Linked DNA regions of Homo sapiens: all the other regions are linked to region 1. The links come from fine-mapping of genetic effects on gene expression. A gene starts in region 1. Each other region holds a variant in brackets. All regions are shown on one strand. Distances are between the middles of the regions.

Region 1 (5,112 bases):
CTAGCAGTGGCCTCTTAGGGTGGCAGGGTTTGCAGCTGCTGTCTGGGGCTACAGGCCCTGGTGCTAAACCAAGGCCATCCTCCCACCAAGGAGCACAGTGGTAAGTCATTGGCAGCTGGGCAGGTTGCACAGCTGGGGAGGATGACCCAAGTGAGCTGAATACTGGCCAAGGTCCTGTTCTTCTTTCACGGCTACCCTGCTTCTGTCACAACCCCCATCGTACTGAACTGCAGTTGTCAACTCCCTGGCTGATTCCCTGTGAAACAGAGCTCCTAGGGAAGAGCCTAGGTCCAGACCAGCTGTACAACTTGAATGGTCCAGTGTAAAATACAACTTATATGGCCCCTTGTTCAAAAATTGTTAAGATTTCAAGAAGGTGGCAGGACAGCATTAAACTCTGTATGAAGCCCTTCTAAGTGAGTGGCCTATGTCAGGGGTCCCCAACCCCAGGCCACAAACCGGTAATGGGGTACTGGTCCGTGAACCCTATTGAGAACTGTGCATGTGAGGGATCTAGTTTGCACACTCCTTATGAGAATCTAACTAATGCCTGATGATCTGAGGTGGAACAGTTTTATCCTGAAACCATTCCCACCCCCCACTCCCACCCCTGGTCCATGGAAAAATTGTCTTCCACGAAACAGGTTCCTGGTTCCAAAAAGGTTGGGGACCTCTGGCCTATGTGACTTCATAGGTCATATGCCCAGGAAGCCAGCCTTGCCTCGGTCTTATTCGTCACCTAGAGAGAGCTCAATAAATCCTCATTGAATAAACGAGTTTGGGTTTCTCCTGCAACACTGAATCATGTAATCATGGGGAAAGAGGAGGTGGAGATCCTCATCCTTCCCATGGTCCAGGCTAGCTCCATAGCCTGGGGCCAATCAGTGAGTATCAACTGTGCCTCAGTTTCCTACATCCATACATTGGAAGAACCATCTTTTCCCTGTCGCTTTTCTGCCACGGGCCAAGAGTAAAAGAGGCACGAATGTACAAGCTGAACTTGCAGCAGTTAATGTGATGGCTCTGTGATTCTGAAGGGCACCATGAGGCGTGGTGTTCTGTTAAAGAAAACGCCAGCAAATTAGAGACATCCCCATAGAAGCCAGAAGATGTGGTTAATGTTTGCAACATGAAATGTCTAGGTGTTCTGAGGTGGGCTAAAGGACAGTTGCTTTTCTTCCCTATTAAATAGGTGGTTAGACTCAGACACAAGGGAACAGGAAGCAGAATGGCATCAGAGACAAAGATGACTGCATGGAGTTTGGTGAGAAACCATCCTCAAAGCAGCAATTTTTTGGATGAGTCTCAGCCTTTCTGAGCCTCTGTTATTCCAACTGTGAAGTGATACAATTAACAATAACAAAAATTTGATAAGAGCAAATACATTTGGCATTTTTAATGAACCTACTACTATTCTAAGCCCTTTAAAGATACACATTTATTTCGATTCATAGAACACCCCATGATGCAGGAGCTGTTACTATCCACATTGTACTGATGGAGAAAGTTCCAGTAACTTGCCAAGGACGTAGCTGGCAAGTTGGAGCACTGAGATTCAAACCCAGGGCTTTGGCCTCCAGAGTCTGTGCACTAACCACTGTAATACCTCTGAGACTGTAAGGGGCAAATGAATGACAACGCATTGATTTAGAAGTGAAAGGCGATCTAAACGTGCAAGTATTAACACTATTAAAAACAACAATAACAATGGTAGGTACCTCCGATGCCTCTGACCTTATCTCTCTGGTCACAGTTTTCTGCTCTGTAAAATGGGTGGGCAGGCTTTACACTGGATAATCTCTGAGGCCCCTTCCACTTCTCAGATTCTGATAATGAAATGTCCTTCTTTCCTCACATAAGGCTGAGAGAAGGTCAAGCCACCAGCTTGCAGACCTTGGGAGTTGACACAGGGAAGCATACCCAGGACAGAGCCAGAAAAGCCAAGGCACGCAGTAGGGACACACCAGAGGGCAGGCCTCAGAGCCCCTGACAGCCTTCTGAAACTCTGGCAGGGTGGAGGGAGGTTGTGGGCTAGTGGCTGGCTGGGCTGCAAGGAGAAGAAAGGACTCCACAGAGTAATTTATAACAGCTGCTCAGTAAGTGCTAATTTGTTTCTCTCCACCTTGGAATAGGACTTAGCGCGTGTGAGAGGGGGATGCTACTACATAAACCAGTACCAGAAAGATGGGCTTGCCAGGAAAGAACTGGGGCACTCTGCAGGGGCAGTGTCTGGGGAAGGGTTCTCCAAAAAGGTGACATTTCAGAGGGGCCTGGATGGATGAGTAGGATTTCAACAGGCAGAGATGAAAGGGGAGGGTGTTCCAGGCAAAAAGAAGAACTCCCAGCAGCCATGAAGAACAGCTGGTGTTTGGCAACAGCTAGTGTGTCCAGAGCGAAAGTGTTGTGTGTGTGTGAGGGAGAGAGGGTGAGGCTGGAAAATTAGGTTGTGGCCGGAGAGGGCAGGGTGGGCCTTGCCTTGTGCGCTAAGCTGAGGGGTTATCCTGCAGCCGGAGCACCTCGGGAGGCCTTTGAAGATTTACTCAGTGCTTTATTAACAAATACGTATTGGGTTTTTGGTGTTTTGTTTTGTTTTTAACGATTCATGCCCACAGTAGAATATATAGAAGAGTCAGAAAAGTATAAAGAATAAGGATCCCCTTTAGTTTCTGCTCCCAGAGGTAACAGCCGGAGTGACGCCGGGCTGCTGCCGGGTTTTCGGGGGTGCACTCCCAGACACCACCTCTCCAGTGAGCCAGCGAGGGCCGGACTGATGCCCCACCTTGGGAGCCTGAATCGGGGCAAGGGGCCTAGGGAGCAGCGGGACCCCGGAAGCCCGACCAGTCAGGCCGGCTAAGTCGGCAGCCGCCCCGCCCTCGCCACCCAGCCTCCCTGGCGGCCTCAGGTCGCGCCTGCAGGCCCGGACCCCACCGCTTGGCGCGCGCACGTCCCGGAGGGCGTCCAGGGGGCGCCGCTTCCCGTTCAGCTCCGCTGAGGGGCTGGTCCAGCCCGCGCGGCTCGGAGCGGAAAGAGTCGGGCGGAGCAGGCGGCTGCTTGACAGCTGAGAGCCGAGCGGGCGGCGCGGGCAGGTCCACGGGAAGCCTACACGCCCAAGGTAACGTGGAGGAAGGTTGAGGGTGGGCGGCCGGGGCGGCCGGGGGGCGGCGCTTCCTGCCTGCTCCTCCGGCTGCGAAGTGTGAGCGCGTGTCTGCCGCACATGGAACTCGCAGAGGGCCTGGATGGAGGCTGTGTGCCCTTGGGGGGGAACAGCTGGCTCCCCTGCCACCCCCAGGCCTGGCCTGGCCCTTGCTCCCCTCCCTGTCACTCGGTAACGGGACTGGAGGAGAGCCGAGAAGCACTAGGGTTTTGGTCAGGAAAGGACCTTAGGAACCCTCCAGCCTCATCCAGCCTCTTCATTTCACAGATGAGGAAACTGAGGCTCAGAATGGTAAAGTGACTTGCCCAAGGTCTCAAGTCTAAGAACCAAAACTCCTACCTTGCAGGTCAGTGCTACTAGGAGCCCTGGCCACGCAGGCAGCATCCACAACTGTTGCCATGCCGAGAAACAAAGAACCGAGACAGACAGTCAGAAAGACACAGAGAGAGAACCTCCCAGAGCAAAGGAAGGAGGTCAGGAAGTGGGCGGCTGCTGGGGCTTGGCTTCCGCCCTGGCCCCCGCGTGTGCTGGCCTGGCTGTGTGGCTCAGAGGCGTTGTGCTGACTCTGTCCGTGTGTGTGTGTGTCCGTGTGTGTGTGTGTCTGTGTGTGTGTGTCCGTGTGTGTGTGTGTGTGTCCGTGTGTGTGCGAGTGTGTGTCTGTGCACCCATGCATGCACGGGATGCAGCGAATGTACCCTGCCACGTGGGAAAGCCCTCTGAGTTCATTTATCTGTTTACACAGTGTGCTTAGGAACCTGCCCTGTTTGGCTCTGTGGAGGACACCAGGAGTCTCAAAGGAATTCGTTCTGTGTGACTCAAGAGGACAGAAAGAGCCAATCCGTGGGAGTCCCCAGGGTGGTCAGAGGGTCAGGAGGAAGAACCTAACTCATGAGGTGATGGGTTCCTTGTCTCTGGAAGAAAGCAGCATGTACCGAAGAGTCTTTTTATCAAGGATGTGGGCATAGGGATATGAAATCAGAGCAGTTTGCTCCACGTGGAATCAGCATTTTTGTTGAAGGGTCCAGAGTTCATGCCCCTTTTCAGGTGAAATGAATATGTACAACCTCATGGTTTAGTATTTGCCCATAAGAGCTACTTCATGCGCAGTTTTTAAGTGATAAGTGAGAGGCTTCAGGTATGGCTTCCGAGGTCCTGTCACCTCTCGGTTCTATAAGTGAGAGGCTTCAGGTACGGCTTCCGAGGTCCTGTCACCTCTCGGTTCTATACTATAAAGTGTGTAGAGGGAGTTTGGAGGAGGGAGGTTACTTCTGGAAGGAGTGACTCGCAGAGGGCGTCCTGGATGTGGCACTGAGGCCGGGCCTTGAATAGGAGGCTGGGTCTGGGCATCTTGGGGAAGGACGGCTGAGCAAAGCCGTGAAGGTGGGTTGTACCTGAGGAGCAAGGAGTAATGTAGTGGACAATCCGGTGAGGAGTGCTGCCTGGGAGAGATGGCAGAGGCTTGGAGTGTTACGAGTCTAGAAACTTCATTATTAAGCCTAGGGATATTTTGATGGTTTCTAAGAAGGGAAGTGTTGTTCCTGGAGCTGGGTTCAGAAGAACATGTCATCTGCACCTGGGTATGGGATGTACTGCAGTGGAGGAAGCTGTGGGAAGAGAACCTGGGAAGAAGCCCATTGCAGTCACCATGAGGGGTTGAACAGGGCTGGTGGGAATGGACAGGAAGGGGCTAAAAGGCTTGGGGGTAGGGGAAAAGTCATCTGCCATGTGCCAGGGCCTGTGGTAGGAGATTTTCATGTTTAATCTCATTTAATCCTCCTGACAACCTCATGAGGAGATTGCTATGATTGTTCCATATTGTAGAGGAGGAAACTGAGAGAGAGGTTAGGTGGTTTATCCAAGGTCATACAGAAAATAAGTGGTGGGATGGGGATTTTAACCCAGAGAACAATGGAGTAGATGCAATCTGGTAACTGAATAAATGTCAGGGACCAGAGCAG
Region 2 (5,156 bases), 130 kb after region 1:
TGCACTAGCCTTTGCCCAGCGGCAGTGGCTGGGATGACCGTTTCCATTTACTGCCTCTTTGTTATCTGTTTGGTCTCTTCTGTCTCTATCTGTCCAAGCTGCTGTTGCTGTTTGTCTTCCTGAGCCCTCCAGAGGCCTTTCTGAAGGTTGCGGGAGATGCCCTAAAGTTCTAAGATCTGGAACTTATGGTGGTGGTGGGGGGATGTACTTTCGAACCTCTTTATGCCTTTGCAAACATTCTTACAGGATGCAGGAGTGGGGAATACCTGTATCAAAACACCTGTGTTGAGGTCCTGACCTATGAGGGCTGCTGTGGGATGCAGAATGCACTTCACTGACCTTGCCCCCTCTCTCTGGGGTTGAGGACCCCAGGTAGGGTCACACCCCTGGAGAGATGGTTGTGAACAGCCCAGTGGTAGGATTAGGAGCTCTAATCCATCTCAAGGGTGAAAGTTGCCTGTGATTTTTTCTCTTACCCCTTCTGTTCTGTCCTTTCCTCTACCTGCCAGTTCCTACCCTCCTCCTCCTATTCCTCCTCCTCTCCTTCTTCTTCCTCCTCCTCCACATACCTTTGGATTGGTTGATGGAGGCCATACCCCTAGGACATTTGAATTTTACTAGGGGGCCTCTGAAAGAATTTTAGGAAAGAAGGAAAGAAAGAAAGAAAGAGAGAAAGGAAGGAAGAGAGGAAGAGAGAAAGAGAGAGAGAGAAAGAAAGAGAGAAAGAAAGAGAGAGTTGGGGGAGAGGGAGGGAGGAAGGGTGAAGGAAGGGAGGGAGGGAGGGAAAGAGAGAGGGAAGGAGAGAGGGAGGGAAGGAGAGAGGGAGAGAGGGAGGGAAAGAGAGAGAGAGGGAAGGAGAGAGGGAGGGAAGGAGAGAGGGAGGGAGGGAGGGAGGGAAAGAAAGAGTGTATGGCTTGTATTACAGTGAAGAGCCCACAGTTCAGAGTGGTTAAGTGATTTGATCAATGTTCCACAGCTAATAAGTGGCAGAGACAGGACCAGAGCTGAGGTCCCATGCCTCCCCATCCAGTGCTCTGTTCTTTTCTCCATTTTGCCTCCCACGAGCTGCACATGGAGGGTTGTCACCTTGGGCCTGATGTGATTTCAGATGTTGGAAGCATTGTTTCCTGATTTGGAAGTGAGGTGCCCCTGGCCCAGGGCAGCCCTGACAGGCCCATTTCACCCTGCAGGCATTGATTACCGTGTGAAGACGTTGAATGTGGACAACTCTCAGGTGGCCCTGCAGCTGTGGGACACGGCTGGGCAGGAGAGGTGAGGAGCTGCCCGAAGTTCTGGGCTCCAGAGGGAAGGCCGTGCATGCCTGACCCGTGGCCCTTCTGTGGCAGGTACCGGTGCATCACCCAGCAGTTCTTCAGAAAGGCAGATGGTGTCATCGTCATGTACGATCTCACAGACAAGCAGTCGTTCCTGTCGGTCCGGCGGTGGCTGAGCAGCGTGGAGGTGAGCTGGCGACCTTCCTAGGAGCATTTAGGCTTGACTGTGGCTTCTTTTTTCTTCTCTGTCCATCTCCCACGTGGGCCTCTGCATTTTCAAAATCTGATTCGGAACTTGCCTTTTCCAGGAACAAACTGATGCAGGCATGTGTTCCTCTGTTCGTCTGGGTTCCCAGTACCAGGCCAGTTCCTGGGGACCCAGAAGTGAACAAGACAGACACAGTCCCTGCCCTCATGGAGAGAGGGACACTGAAAATCCAGATTATGCCAGTAGCTGTGTCATTGCTGGGCCATGATTGAGTGGGACTGGATTGGGGGAGGGGACACAGTGGAGTGTCAAGGAAGGGTCCTGGAGAAATCAGTGTTTGAGTCACAACCAGATTCTTCCCTCATTCTCACCAGCGTCTCTCCCCATCCCCTGAGTCTTTCCAGCTCCAGTAGGCCCAGCTATGCCCTGCCCGGGAGCCACACCATGCAATGTTTGGGGGCCTCTGTCACAGCTCTTCACACAAGGGGAGGTTGATCCAGAATGTGAGGGCTCCAGGCTCACCTCAAAATCAAGAGTCTTGGCAGGGCCCAAGAGCAACTGTGTTATCTTTGCATTCTGAATTATCTGGGAGACTCTATGTTTATGATTCCTACTTGCAGTATGTCGTTTTGTACATGCTTTTTTCATTAGTGTTTCCACCACCCCAGTGCAGGCTTCTCAAGGCCACTGCCAGTGTGGACAAGCTACAAATTGCTTTTTGCCAGGCCTCGGCTGATTCCTTCACAGAACAGCCAAGCAGGATGTCCCGCCCCTTCCACCAGCAGGATTCATGGTTTGTTCACGTATTTGTTCAAAACACCGGCAGGCACTATTCTAGAGCCTGGGAATCCTAGCAGTGAATAAAAGAGACAAAGCTCCTGCCCTCATGAAGCTTATGTTCAGCTCTCTGCTCCAAGCCCATAAAACCTTGCATATCCCATCACATATTTATCATGCTGC[A/T]ACAAATTGCTTATTTACTGGCCTGTGTCTCCCACTGGACTCCGTGCTGCCTAAGAACAGAAGCTGCATCTTCGTTGCTATAACCTGGATGCTTTGCATGAGACCAACAACTCCTGGATGAATGAATGGATACCACATTGCTATGAAGGCAGACTCTTGGAGTTGTCCATTTCTTTGACCCTTTTGGCCCTAAGATCCATGATCCCTTTCACCCAAATCTGTTTCTCTGTAGTTTTGCATGTCTGGGTCACCCGTCTGTCTTTTGTTAATCTGCATCCTTCTGATTACCAAGAAAAATAAGGAACAAAATGGAAGCCAGATTCAAGGGTTTCTCAAGAATTTGCCTACTACCTGTTATTTCTCAAAATTACTGTGCCTGACGCACTTACAAATGAGAAAATGCAAGTTTTGAAATGTAGGTAGTAGATTGCCTGTACACCAAACTAATAATGGAAGCAAATGGTATGGGTGAATCCAGCAGTAATTCCTTTCTAAACTTTGGAGTTTACGACACGATCTTTCTCTTCTGTTCTTTTTTTTACTTTTGTTGTTGTTGTTGGCAGCACCAAGCAGATTTATCTTCTTTGCAGAAGTTAAGCACCAGGAGGGATGTTAGGGATTACCTAATCCAGGGGTTTCCAGACTCTCTTCCTTGGAGCCCTGGAATCAGACTGACATTCCCCAGAGATTGGGGAGCGGCAAGGGAAGGTTTAGTGGTCACGGATCCAGGTCCCTCATCCCCCATCTCCGTCAGAGCTGCCTTGCCTTTTTCAGCATATTGGAGGTCAGCTACAATTTTGTTAGACAAAAGAGTTTCCCTTTGAAAATCTCCCATCTAGTATGGCCATCTCATTCAAAAGTGAAGAAAGGGAAGGCCTAACTTCTCCAGGGTCACCTGTCCTTTTCACAGACATTTAGTTGTCCCCCAGTATCTAAATTTTGGTGTGTGCTAGGGCTAAGCCTCCAGGTGGTCTGGGATTAATGGGAATGGATGGTGACAAATTTGGGGAACTACGCTCTCTGCTGTCATTAGGGGGTGTCGTTTCTAAGGCTCCTGTTTTGCACAGAGCCTGGGATCTAGAAGAAGAGGTGGAACAGTTTGGTGGTGGAGGTGAAGACATCTCAGAAGACCATCATCACAGCTTGAAGCATCAGTTTAGTCATCCTCCAGAGACGTTGCTTTGTGGGACGGGGCTGAAATCATCAGCGGCGTGTGGCTGCTAAGAGGCCCACGGAAGCCTTGGTGTGTCTGTGGGCTCGGGAAGCCTGGCTGAGATGGCAAATCTATACATAGTTAAATCAGAATTGCTTATGTGTAAACAGGGCTTTTCTATATGATTTCTAGTTTGAGTTTTTCCTTTTTTTTAAGATATTAGCCAAAGGTACATTTAAGCTCTAATTGATTATTCTAAACCTGGGTGAACATCAGGATCACACGTGGAGCTTTTAAAGGGAACAGAGGCCAGGGGCCAGGGCCTTCTCTCCCAGAGTGGTTCAGAGCCTGCAAATAAAAAATAAAACGAACAGCTCCCCAGGGAATTTTGATTCTCAGCCACCACTGTTCCCGGCTAAACAAGCGCTCCTTGAACCCTAACATATATAGGACTCTCCTGGGGAACTTCTTAAAATGCAGTCTCTGCTTCAGCAGGTCGGGACTGGGGTCTGAGATTCTGTGTTTCTAGCAAGTTCTCATGTGAGGCTGATGCTGGTGGTCCAGGGATGACCCTGTGAGTAGAAGAGCTCTAAGTCATTTCCGAAGATGCCTGTGACCCCTCACCAAGGTTTTACTACACATCTGCGGCATGTCCAGCACACACTAGGAGCTCTGGGACTCAGTATGATAGACCAGGCAATGCGTTCAGTTCAGCAGCACAGAGTTTCAGAAACAAGTGCAGGAGGCTGTGTCAAATGGCAGAGTGTGTGTTGAAGGTGTGGAACGGTGGCATCATAAATGCAATTATTCTCTAGATTCTTGAAAAGCTAAGTCATTCTGCCTTGGCAACCAGCAATCAGAGGTGTCAGGTGATAGATTAAAACTTGACACCTAATTTGATCTGAGGGGAACTGAAAATAATAAGTACCTTATATTTGTGGAGCACCTTATTTTTCCAAAGAGCTCTGAGCACTTTACCAACTCCCTCGCCTGGAGAAGGGAGGGTGGAGGGGGAGCTTTAATAACAGTCTTCAAGGTTCTGAAGCCTTATTAGTAAGTGAATGGTGGCCAGCTGTTCACAGTCCCCCTTCCTCCCTCAACCTGAAAAGCATACAAGAAAAAAGGGCTTCAGTTGCTGTACATGCCTGCATGGGAAAGACTCTTGGAAGAGGTTGTGTGGGGTGGGAACAGATGCTCGGGGGAGGTAGTGGAGTTCCCTGAAAGGAAGTTCTTACTATCCCATCTTGATCACTTCCTGGCCATGAAACTTTGGCCAATCATTCAACAAGGCAGCAGACCAAATGCTCCCTCCTGGCCCCTAAATTTCTACAGTGTATGATGGCATTTGACTATCTCTCTGGGAGGCCAAGACGGAGCAGGAATGTGTGTGGATGAGGAGATTCTGGAGGGTCCTTCCAGCCCAGAGGGAACCAAAATCCTTTGGTGCAAGAGAGCACCAGCACTGCTTGATGAGATGGGAAGACTGTGGCCTTGCCCTTGTTCTGCTATTTCACCCAGTCTAGGCAACTTTACCTTGCCTGCAGGCCTTCTGCAGAAGAGG
Region 3 (5,156 bases), 25 kb after region 1:
GAGTTCCAGACACCAGATACTGAACAACCTACTTGTCTCCACACCTAGTAAAGCTTGGATCCAATGCTGCCAACTTTTCTGCCTCTCCAGTTTTGGAGCCCTTAATGTGAAGGTGCAACCCAGAAGCCTGCAGGCTGTTCGTAGCCTGTAGATGTGTTTTCTTCCCAGTAGCTGGTGTATACAGTGTTTTTGTATTATTTTTCAAATAAGCAATACATTTGTGTGGTTCAAAAATTAAAGCGCTATAGAAAGGTATTCGGCGAAATCTTATCCCTGCCTCCATTGGCCAGTCCTGCCCTGCCCCTCCCTTGTAACCACTTTTATTAGTTTCCTATACAACCTTCCAGGATTTCTTTTTGCAGATAAAAGTCAGTACAAATATATATCTGCCTCATCCCTCTACTTCTTACATAATTATAACAGACTCTACACACTATTTTTAACCTTGCCTTTTTCACTCGATTTATCTTGGTGATCTTTCCCTCTCAGTATGTGGAGAGCTTCCTCATTCTTTTTTTACAGGGGCATAGTATCCCATTGTATGGATTTACCATAATTTAGCAATCCCCTACTGATGAACACAGGTTGTTTTTAGTCATTTGCTGTTAATATTACAAGAAACACTGCACGGAATAAACCTGCCATTTCATGTTGACCCTGAACGTGTGTAACATTTAAAAATTCTGAAAAATCTTTGAATAATCAACAGAACTGGAAACACTCAGTTCTAGTATGTGGACAACTGGTTGGGTTGGGTAGCAGCTGTCCTTTTAAAGAGACCTCCCTGCCCCGCTCTGGCATCTTCCCCACCACCTCTTGCTGACCCTCTTGCGTTCAGCCTGAGCGTTGACTGCCATCTAGCAACATTGTGCTGTTTCTCTCATAGAGTATTAAGGAGGAAGGGAAATCACTCATGTACTCATGTCTCTTCAAGGGGGAAACTGAAAACCAAGGAGGCTGTCTTTTTCCAGCAGAGGGAGGAGGGCAGACTTAATATGAAAGCGATTCTTCTTCATCGGCCCCTGCCCACTCGGCCCATTTCTGTTAATCTTCTGTATGCTTGAGATTGCAGCCCCTGCCTTGCCATGTCCAGGCTTTCATCTCGGGAGCTGAAAAGTGGAAGGGAAAGAACTCTGCTCTCTTCTTGCTTTTGTGCACTATCTGAGTAATTGCATGGAGACCAGCAATAAAAATGAAATACAAGACAGTCAGAAGTGTTGCTCCATTACATGGATTCTCTCAGCAGACCCCCCAAGGCAGTGGTAGCACTAGCTCACTTTTCCAGACAAGGAAACAGTAGCAGAGTGAAGTGGCTTCACCAAGACTCATAACTCGCACACAGAAGAACTAGGATCAGAACCCAGGTTTTTCTGTCACTAGAACCTGACATTTTAGCCAATCTATCATGCTGCTCCCAAAGTCTTTTTGTTTTTTCTTGAGACAGAGTCTCGCTCTGTCACCCAGGCTGGAATGCAGTGATGCAATCTTGGCTCACTGCAACCTCTGCCTCCCGGGTTCAGGTGATTCTTCTGCCTCAGCCTCCCAAGTAGCTGCGACTACAGGTGCACACCACCACATCCAGCTAACTTTTGTATTTTTAGTACAGATGGGGTTTCACTATATTGGCCAGGATGGTCTTGATCTCTTGACCTCATGACCTGCCTGCCTCGTCCTCCCAAAGTGCTGGAATTACATGCATGAGCCAGCTTACCCGGCCCCAAAGTCTTTTTAAATAAGGAGTGGTTTACAGTTAAGCCTCTCACCTTCTAAGTCTGTCATTACTGATGCTGTGGAGATGATAGTCGTGACAAAGATAAGAGCAGCTCTGAAAATGGGCCAGATGGCTACATACTGCAAAAAAGGTGGGTGACAATGCGTCTGTGGTCTCATAACTAACGTGACGGCTGTTCCTTGACAGCTTTTCCCATTTCATAGAGTGGAATTGGCTCCCCTGCCCTTTTGCTCTTTCAATCCAAGAACATGTATTGAGCACCTTCTGAATGCCAGGCACTGCGCTCGGTGTGAGTGACAAGCCTGGTGCCTGGAGGCTAGTTCAGGCAGGTCAACAGAAAGCTGCAGTGCCACCAGCTACATGTGGTATTGGTGACATGGATGCGTTGGGTTGTGTCCAGAATGTGACAAAAGAGACAAATACGCCATGGAGCAACCATGGACAACAAGGCGAGTGGCTTCCAGCTGTCTTGGGTCCTCGTCATTTTACACTACTTGATGAAGGAAGGAAGTGGGACCCAGAAGTGGTGGCTATGAGCTAAGGTATTGAGCCATCCTTCTGCCCGCAGCCCAGGATGAACATGACCACAACTGGCAGCTCTCTGGAGGCCACTCGGGGTTGAAAGGTGGGCCAAAGGAACCCTCCCTCCCTTTGCTGCTCCACCTCAGCTTTTCTCATTCCTGGCCATTTGTTTATCCTGTAAGCTGGGGGCTGGGGGTCTCCCAAAGTATCACTCATCCTGAGAGTTAGCATTCTTCCAGCGGGGCAAAATCCTCTTCCCTACTGAAGAAATTCTAAACCCAGCCAGCTGAAAGAGGAAGAGTGCAGGGGTGAGGGGAGGATGGGACCAAGAGGGCACATTCCACTTGATCTCTGAAGTCACACCTCAGCAACGGGACTTGCCCGCCAAGGCTTCTCGTCACCATGCTTTGTTGGATTTGTAATGTGCTGTTTATCTCTCTTCTCCCGCAAGTTTGCATGCAACAGCATCTGTCATCTCTGTGGTTATCTTAGAACAACTGGGGCTTTTGCTTTTTATTTATTCTTTCTCTGAGTGCAGTGCTAACCACAGCAGCCTACGGGCAGAGG[G/T]GTTGGGGAGGGAGTCAGTTGCTTTTCATTGAAGTGCTATGGTCTTCAGCTGCAGCTGGTGTGAGTGCTGAAACTGTGTGAAACAAAAGTGTTGAAACTCAGTCCCAAGTGACTTCTGGGGATCCGTTGCCTGTGTTTCCTATGGATGAGTAATTAGAAACGAGTGGTTTTCAGGTTGAAAAGGAGACTCCAGAGTCCTGATGGAATACAGACAGCAGGCACGTCTAGGGCCACAGACAGGTATGTGTGCTGCTCTGTGCTGGCAGCTGTGTGCAGATACAAAAGAAGTATCCCATACCCTCCTTGCCCTCAAGGAACTTAGTGACAGGAAGGAGAGCAAAATTTACAGTTGGCCTACCCTCTTGGGCCTGTTTCCTCATTACAGAAATGAATGAGGTTACACTTGATCAGTATTCCTTATTTTATTTTATTTTTTTTTTAGATTCAGGAGGTACACCTGCAAGTCTGTTACATGGAGATATTGCATAATGCCGAGGTTTGGGGTTCTAATTAACCCATCACCCAAATAACGAACATAGTATGCAATAGGTAGTTTTTCAGCCCTTGTTTGGCGAGTGTTTCTAATGGGGTCAGGCTGTCCCCTAGAGTAATGCCTCTCACACTTTCAAAGAAGTTAAGCCAAAAGCCCGGTATTTAGGAAATGGTTGTTTTAGGAAGAGAAGCCTAAATGGAATAAAGACAAAACCTCGAAATGACGAGATGATCTCCCTGCTTCATGCATTCTGTCTAGATCAGAGCATTTCCAAATATACACTGAACTGAAAAGGGCACAGTACAATATGCAGTGACCGCAAAGCAAGGAACCCATGCGCAGGTCTGTAACAGGAAATCTGAGACTTCATCCAGCCGATGTAGAATTAGATACTAGTTTAAATTAGCAGAGGCGCCTCAAACTTGTTTATAAAAGCTGTTTTAAAAATAATATTCTTATCACATATATTTATATTTGTAGTACAATGATAAGAAATCTCTTGCAAAAATTAGCTATCATGGTTACTTCTTTGGGGTTGCCTTTTGTTCTTCCTTCTTACTCTGATATTCTCCTTCAAGATTTACCCAACAACTTTTCCCAATCCATCCTCTTCTTCTCACCGCCCATACTATAAGGATGTCATTTTAAAAGCTTTTTTTTTTTTTTTTTTTTGAGACAGAGTCTCACTCTGTTGCCAGGCTGGAGTGCAGTGGTGCGATCTCAGGTCACTGCAACCTCTGCCTCCCGGGTTCAAGGAATTCTCCCACCTTAGCCTCCCGAGTAGCTGGGACTACAGGGTGTGCCACCACGCCCGGCTAATTTTTGTATTTTTAGTAGAGACGGGGTTTCACCATGTTGGCCAGGATGGTCTCAATCTCTTGACCTTGTGATCCACCCGCATTGGCCTCCCAAAGTGCTGGGATTGCAAGTGTGAGCCACCACGCCCAGCCACTTTTTTTTTTCTTTCTTTCTTTTCTTTCTTTTTTTTTTCTTTACTGCTAAAGACCGAATATATGCCTCAACACAGTGGGTGGGATTTCCAGACTGGAAACATGTTTTCTGTGACACTTTGTCACTATCCTGCCCCATATCACAGCGTAATAAATTATCATGACGCTACACTTATACGTAAGACTGAGCTCACGAGACAGGATCCTGTGCTTCCTTGTTTCCTCTGCTTGCACATTTGTAATTTGATTTGGCTTGTTATCTGTACCTCAGTGAAGGTTATTTCCTTCTTCCTGTTATCATATACGGCCAGGAAAGGGGGGTAACTCATTGTAACACTTCTTTATTCTATTGTCCTCCTATATCCCTCTGATCTTTTATTTCCTTGTACTTCTTATATGAAGTGGCTTCTATTTGTCTTCTGTTAAATCTAAACTTAACCATTATAGGTAGGTGGAAGTGTTGACTACTTCATTATGTGTTCCAGTGCAGGCATGCATGAGCACGTACATATTGACAGACATATTATTTTATTAAGAATCACATTTCTGTGCTCACTTTGGCAGCACGTATACTAAAATTGGAATGATACAAAGAAGATTAGCATGGCTCCTGCACAAGATGACATGCCAAGTGTGTGCTCGCTCTCTCTCTCTCTGTGTATATACGTATATATATAAAATATACATATAGTATGTATTTATATATATTAATCACATTTCCTTTTTATCCTTTTATTAAAATTAGGGCTACTTTATGCGTTTGGGTCGACCGACTTTTCTAGGAATTGTATTTCAGGTGGTAAAGATGGTGTTTCTAAATATTTGTTACAAAAATAGGGCATTGATTGGATAGGGTGGAGCACCACTGGGTTAAATGATCTCCAAGGTCTCT
Region 4 (5,156 bases), 42 kb after region 1:
AGGTGTCAGCAGTGGGGGCAAGACAGGGCAGCTTTCCTCTCCTGTTTTCCCACTGCACTGGCTTTGCTGAGGGCTGCTGCCTGGGAAAACACCAGAGAGTGAAGTCTCCCCATTTGTTTGCTTCCAGCATCCTGGTAGCAATGCCAGTGGAGCAGGGGACAGGGGTGCCAACAGGTGGCTTAGAGAGGGGGTTATCTTGCTCCAGCACTTTTCATTATCTAAAAGTGCTTATTTGGTCTGTGTATTTTTATTTGTCTCTGCCCACTGGAATATAAGCTCCACAAGGACAATACCTTGCTGGATTTGCCTGTTGCTGCCTTTGGCACCTAAAAAAAGTGCCTGCACAGAGTGAATATTCATTGAACAAATGAATGAACATGAGCGCTGTGTTACCTCATATAGAACAGGAAACAGCTGATGAATATTTGCCTCCCATGAATTGTGCATATGAGAGGCACAGAGGCCAGCCTCCTTGGTGATATACATCTGGACTTCAGGTCTAGCTGTGGTTTGAGCTTTGGCATTATACAATAGATAATCCCAATCCCCTTTTTGTAATCACTACTGCTCCCTTCAGTCATTTCAAGCATGCTCTCAGACCATGCTACGCAGCATGTGGCCAAAGCATTCTGTAAAATTGCTCTCCAGGTTCAGTCGTAACACTCCCAAACTGTCCTGTGCAAGGAAGCCCATCCTCTCCCTGTCCCTAAGCCTGTCCCTCCTCCATCGTTTTTCAGCTTTCCCTCCTTATGTAGCCCCTAGGCTTTCTTGTACATCCTACTGCATTTCCTTCTCAGGGAAGGCAGTGATTCTTGCCACAATGCTTACATCGCTATCTTCAAAGGTGAGCTCCTGTGGTGTAGACAGCGTCTGTGGATTGGGTGGAAAGAATTTCAAGAGCACTTGCTGAGAGCTGGAGCTCTGCTGGGGGCAGGGGGGCAGTGTCCAATTAACCCTGAGGCTACCCCCTTCTCATGCACAAGGGCCTGCTCCCATCAGGCTGGACATAATCTCTGGATTCAGGGTCACTAAGCAGACTTATCATCGCTATTCCTTCATCTTCCCTCCTCTTCTCCAAAACCTGGAAGAGGATGAATTAGGCCTGTTTTCTTCCAGAACACTGCAATGCGGTAGGAGCAATGTTTCCTCCCAAGTTTTTCCAAAATTGCTATAAAGCCACTTCTGTTGTAACCCTCAGTGGAAAATAAGGTGTGATTCATCTCTTGTGTGTTTCCTAGGTGGAATTCAAGTCACCAGTGGCCAAAGTACCCTCCAGGTGTGAAGAGTTGCAGGTCCTCCGAGGAGCCGGGAGCTGCAAGGTGAGTGAGCGAACAAAAGGCGACAGGTTGCAGAGTACTAGATCTGCCCCCACCCCAGACCCCAACTTCAGGCCCTGCCTTGTTAGCACTATTGTAGCTGTTTTTTAATATTCATGAGGATCAGCAGTGGGCCCTTAGATTTGAGAAACAATTCGTCAGCCTTCTTGAGGACAGTTTTAAAAATACTAGATGATGGAGGGTCTATTCCACCTTGTTGGAGTATCACTTAAGTTCATTTAAGGGAGGCCTCTGGGAGAGGGGGTTTTGTCACTTTGCCCAGCTCTTTTACATGTGGGCACGAGGGTCTGGAAGCCTCCAGAGAGGGTCTGCTAGCCCCTCTCTGCAAAGAGCTGCTCCTCAGCCACTGGTCACTCACAGAGCCAGTTCCACTGTGGAGCCTGTCCAATCCTGATTTCCCTGCTGTCCAGCCTCCCTTGGCAATGAGGAGGGTGTGTTTACTTTGGTGTACAGCATCACTGTTCACTTTCACATCTGCTGTCTCATTTCAGCCACTTCCCATGGGATAGTAATATAGTAATAGTTTGGATATTTGTCACTGCCCAAATCTCATGTTGAATTGTAATCCCTAGTTTTGGAGGTGGGCCTGGTGGGAGGTGATTGGATTATGGGGGTGAATCCTCATGAATGGCTTAGCACTATCCCTCATGGCTTGGTGCTGTACTTACCATAGTGAGTGAGTTCTCATGATATCTGGTCATTTAAAAGTGTGTGGTACCTCACCCCCAACTGTGTCTCTCTCTGTTGCTCCTGCTTTGCCATCTGACATGCAAGCTCCTGCTTCACCTTCTGCCATGAGTAAGAGCTCCCTGGGGCTTCCCCAGTAACCAAGCAGATGTTCGCACCATGCTTGCATAGCTTGCAGAACCATAAGCCAATTAAACTTCTTTTCTTCTTAAATTACCCAGTCTCGAGTATTTCTTTATAGCAATGCAAGAATGACCTAATACAGATAGGCAGGGAGGAAACTGTTATCCCCACTTTAAAAAAAAAAATGGCCAACTTCCCAAGGTCACAGGGTGGCAAAGTTCACACTTGAACTTTATTTTTGATGCCTGAACCTTTCTATGATACTATGGTTCTGCTAGCCTCTTGACAGATGGGGTTGAGACAGGATGAGAATAGGGAAGGCAGAGGGAATGAAGACTAGGGGTTTGATGGGGAAATAATTGGGAACTGTTGGCTAAGATACCAAGTGGGGTTATCTCTGCAGGCTAGATTCATTGTTGTCTTTGTTTTCCTCTCATTTTCAACCAGCCACTAAAATCCATGATAATAATATGCTATCCAAACTCATAGTGATTCATACAAGAAAGACTATGGTTTGGAGAAAATGTCAAAATTTAGCCCTTTGGATGGCCTTTTATTCCACCTCAGTATAGCATCTTGTATGTTAAACTCTAACTAATACTGAATTTGTTACCAAGTGCCACTGTAATAAATACCTAAAAATGTGGATGTGGCTGTGGAATGGGTAATAGACAGAGGCTGAAAGAATTTTGAGGTACATGCTAGAAAAAGCCTACATTGCCATGACCTGACTTTTAAAGGTGGTTCTGGTGAGGGCTCAGAAG[A/GAGA]AGAGAAGAGCTGTAGAGAAGGCCTCAATCTTAAAGAAGATGTAAGTCATCCTGAACAGTACACTGGTGGGAATATGGATGATAAAAGCCATTCTGATGAGGTCTCGGATGAAAATGAAGAACATGTTATTAGACACTAGAGGAAAGGCCAGTCTTGTTATAAAGTGGCAAAGAACTTGGCTAAGTTGTGCTCACATCAGTGTTTTGTAGAAGGTAGAACCTGCAAGTGATGAAATTGGATATTTGACTGAGGAAATATCTAAGCAAAGTTTAAAGGAGTGGCCTAGTTTCTCTCGACTGCTTAAAGTAAAATTTGAGAGGAGGACTATGACTTAAGATGAAATTGCGAGTCAAAGGCAGAGAACTTAAAGACTTGGAACATTCTCAGCCTATCCCTTTAGAGATGGAACATCTGTCGTGCCCCTGTCCCATCATTGTTTTTGGAAGCACCTAACTTGTTTGATTTCACAGGTTCACAGCTGGTGAGGAATTTGTCTTAGAATGAATAATACCGAGTCTCAACCATATCTAATTTACATGATATTTACATGAGATTTTGGACTTTCTGCCTTTGAGTTTATGCTAGAACGAGTTGAGACTTTTGAGGCTGTTGGAATGGAACGAGTGTATTTTGCATGTGAGAAGGACATGAGTTGGGGAAATCAGGCTTGGAATGCTACGGACTGAATAACTGTGTCACTTTAAAACTCATTATGTTGAAACTTAACCTCCCAAGTGGATGATAGTAGGAAATGGGGCCTTTGAGGACTCTAATGGGATTAGTGCCCTAATAAAAGAGGACCTAGTAAACGTCCCATCTTTCTTTCTTTCTTTCTTTCTTTTTTTTTTTTTTGCGGTGGAGCCTCGCTCTGTCGCCAGGCTGGAGTGCAGTGGCACAATCTTGGCTCACTGCAACCTCCGCCTCCTGGGTTCAAGCGATTCTCCTGCCTCAGCCTCCCGAGTAGCTGGGATTACAGGCACGCATCACTATGCCCAGCTAATTTTTGTATTTTTAGTAGAGACGGGGTTTCACCATGTTGGCCAGGATGGTCTCCATCTCTTGACCTTGTGATCCACCCACCTTGGTCTCCCAAAGTGCTGCAATTATAGGCTTGAGCCACTGCGCCCGGCCAACTTCCCATCTTTCTTACCATGTGAGAACACTGTGAGAAGTTGCAATCTGCAACTCAGAAGAGGGCCCTCACCAGAACCCAACCATGCTGGCACCTGATCTCAGACTTCCAGCCTCCAGAACTGGGAGAAATAAATGTCTATTGTTTATAGGCCATCCAGTCTATGGTATTTTGTTATATTAGCTGGAATAGAGTGAGATATTAAATACTGGTAAGACTTAGCACAGACAAACAGAAAGGGCATGCCAGATGACTGAGCTATATATTTGAAGATGCTGAGGCACAAAAAAGCTGAGAGAACAGGAAATACTTTGGAAGGAAGTGAACGTGGTAGGAGAAGAGGGAGATGACTCCAAAGAAGTAGTAGTGGTCCTGTGTGTTTAAGATTGACACTGAAAACAACAGGGAGGCATGATCAGGTCTGCATTTTAGACAGGTCTTCCTAGCAGTGTTCTTAGGGCTTTGTTTAACTGTTTTCTGGAAAGCAGTTTAGTAATACACATTAGGAGCCTTTAATATGTGCATACAAAATGCCTCTGGTTCAATCATATTATATCTGGGAATGATAATAATAACAATCAGCTACCATGTAGTCCATATTGTATCAGGTATTTTCGATATGCTGGGTGCATTATTTTTGTTTAATCCTTACAACAATTCTGCAAGTAAGAATCATTAGCCTCATTGTACAGATAAAGAAACCAAGGTTTTATTTACTTTCTAATTTTTTTTCTTGAGACGGAGTCTCGCTCTGTCGCCCAGGCCAGAGTGCAGTGGCACAGTCTTGGCTCACTGCAACTTCCACCTCCCGGGTTCAAGCGATTCTCCTGCCTCAGCCTCCTGAGTAACTGGAATTACAGGCATGTGCCACCATGCCCGGCTAATTTTTTATTTTTAGTAGAGACGGAGTTTCACCATGTTGGCCAGGCTGGTTGTGAACTCCTGACCTCAAGTGATCCATCCACCTCAGCCTCCCAAAGTGCTGGGATTACAGGCGTGAGCCACTGCGCCCAGCCAGAAACTGAGGTTGTAAAGAGTCAGGCAGACTTAAGATTGAATTCATGAATTAGCTGTTTTCCTACAATAAATTACTTAACTTTTCTGAAACAGCT

Evidence for each region. PIP is the estimated chance that this variant, and not a neighbour inherited with it, causes the effect. A credible set is the group of variants that fine-mapping cannot tell apart.
Region 2: its variant is the best candidate, but not a certain one, in a credible set for the expression of CRACR2A in whole blood (INTERVAL, PIP 0.86).
Region 3: its variant is the best candidate, but not a certain one, in a credible set for the expression of CRACR2A in blood mononuclear cells (TOPMed, PIP 0.89).
Region 4: its variant is the best candidate, but not a certain one, in a credible set for the expression of CRACR2A in NK cells (Schmiedel 2018, PIP 0.70).

The regions. Positions count from the first base shown.
Region 1 is chr12:3,751,015-3,756,126 of GRCh38, reverse strand. It overlaps CRACR2A (calcium release activated channel regulator 2A), which reads left to right and starts at 3,018. Exons shown (of 20, transcript NM_001144958.2): 1 at 3,018-3,112. RefSeq lists a silencer at 2,784-3,283.
Region 2 is chr12:3,623,741-3,628,896 of GRCh38, reverse strand. CRACR2A (calcium release activated channel regulator 2A) reads left to right here. Exons shown (of 20, transcript NM_001144958.2): 16 at 1,191-1,272; 17 at 1,347-1,461. Among named protein-coding and RNA genes, the nearest start is that of CRACR2A, 130 kb to the left of the region's middle. The variant A/T (reference allele first, on the strand shown) is at 2,443.
Region 3 is chr12:3,725,984-3,731,139 of GRCh38, reverse strand. All of the region lies in intron 2 of CRACR2A (calcium release activated channel regulator 2A), which reads left to right. It also overlaps the pseudogene RNU6-174P. Among named protein-coding and RNA genes, the nearest start is that of CRACR2A, 25 kb to the left of the region's middle. RefSeq lists a silencer at 2,204-2,303. The variant G/T (reference allele first, on the strand shown) is at 2,822.
Region 4 is chr12:3,709,400-3,714,555 of GRCh38, reverse strand. CRACR2A (calcium release activated channel regulator 2A) reads left to right here. Exons shown (of 20, transcript NM_001144958.2): 3 at 1,239-1,319. Among named protein-coding and RNA genes, the nearest start is that of CRACR2A, 41 kb to the left of the region's middle. The variant A/GAGA (reference allele first, on the strand shown) is at 2,912.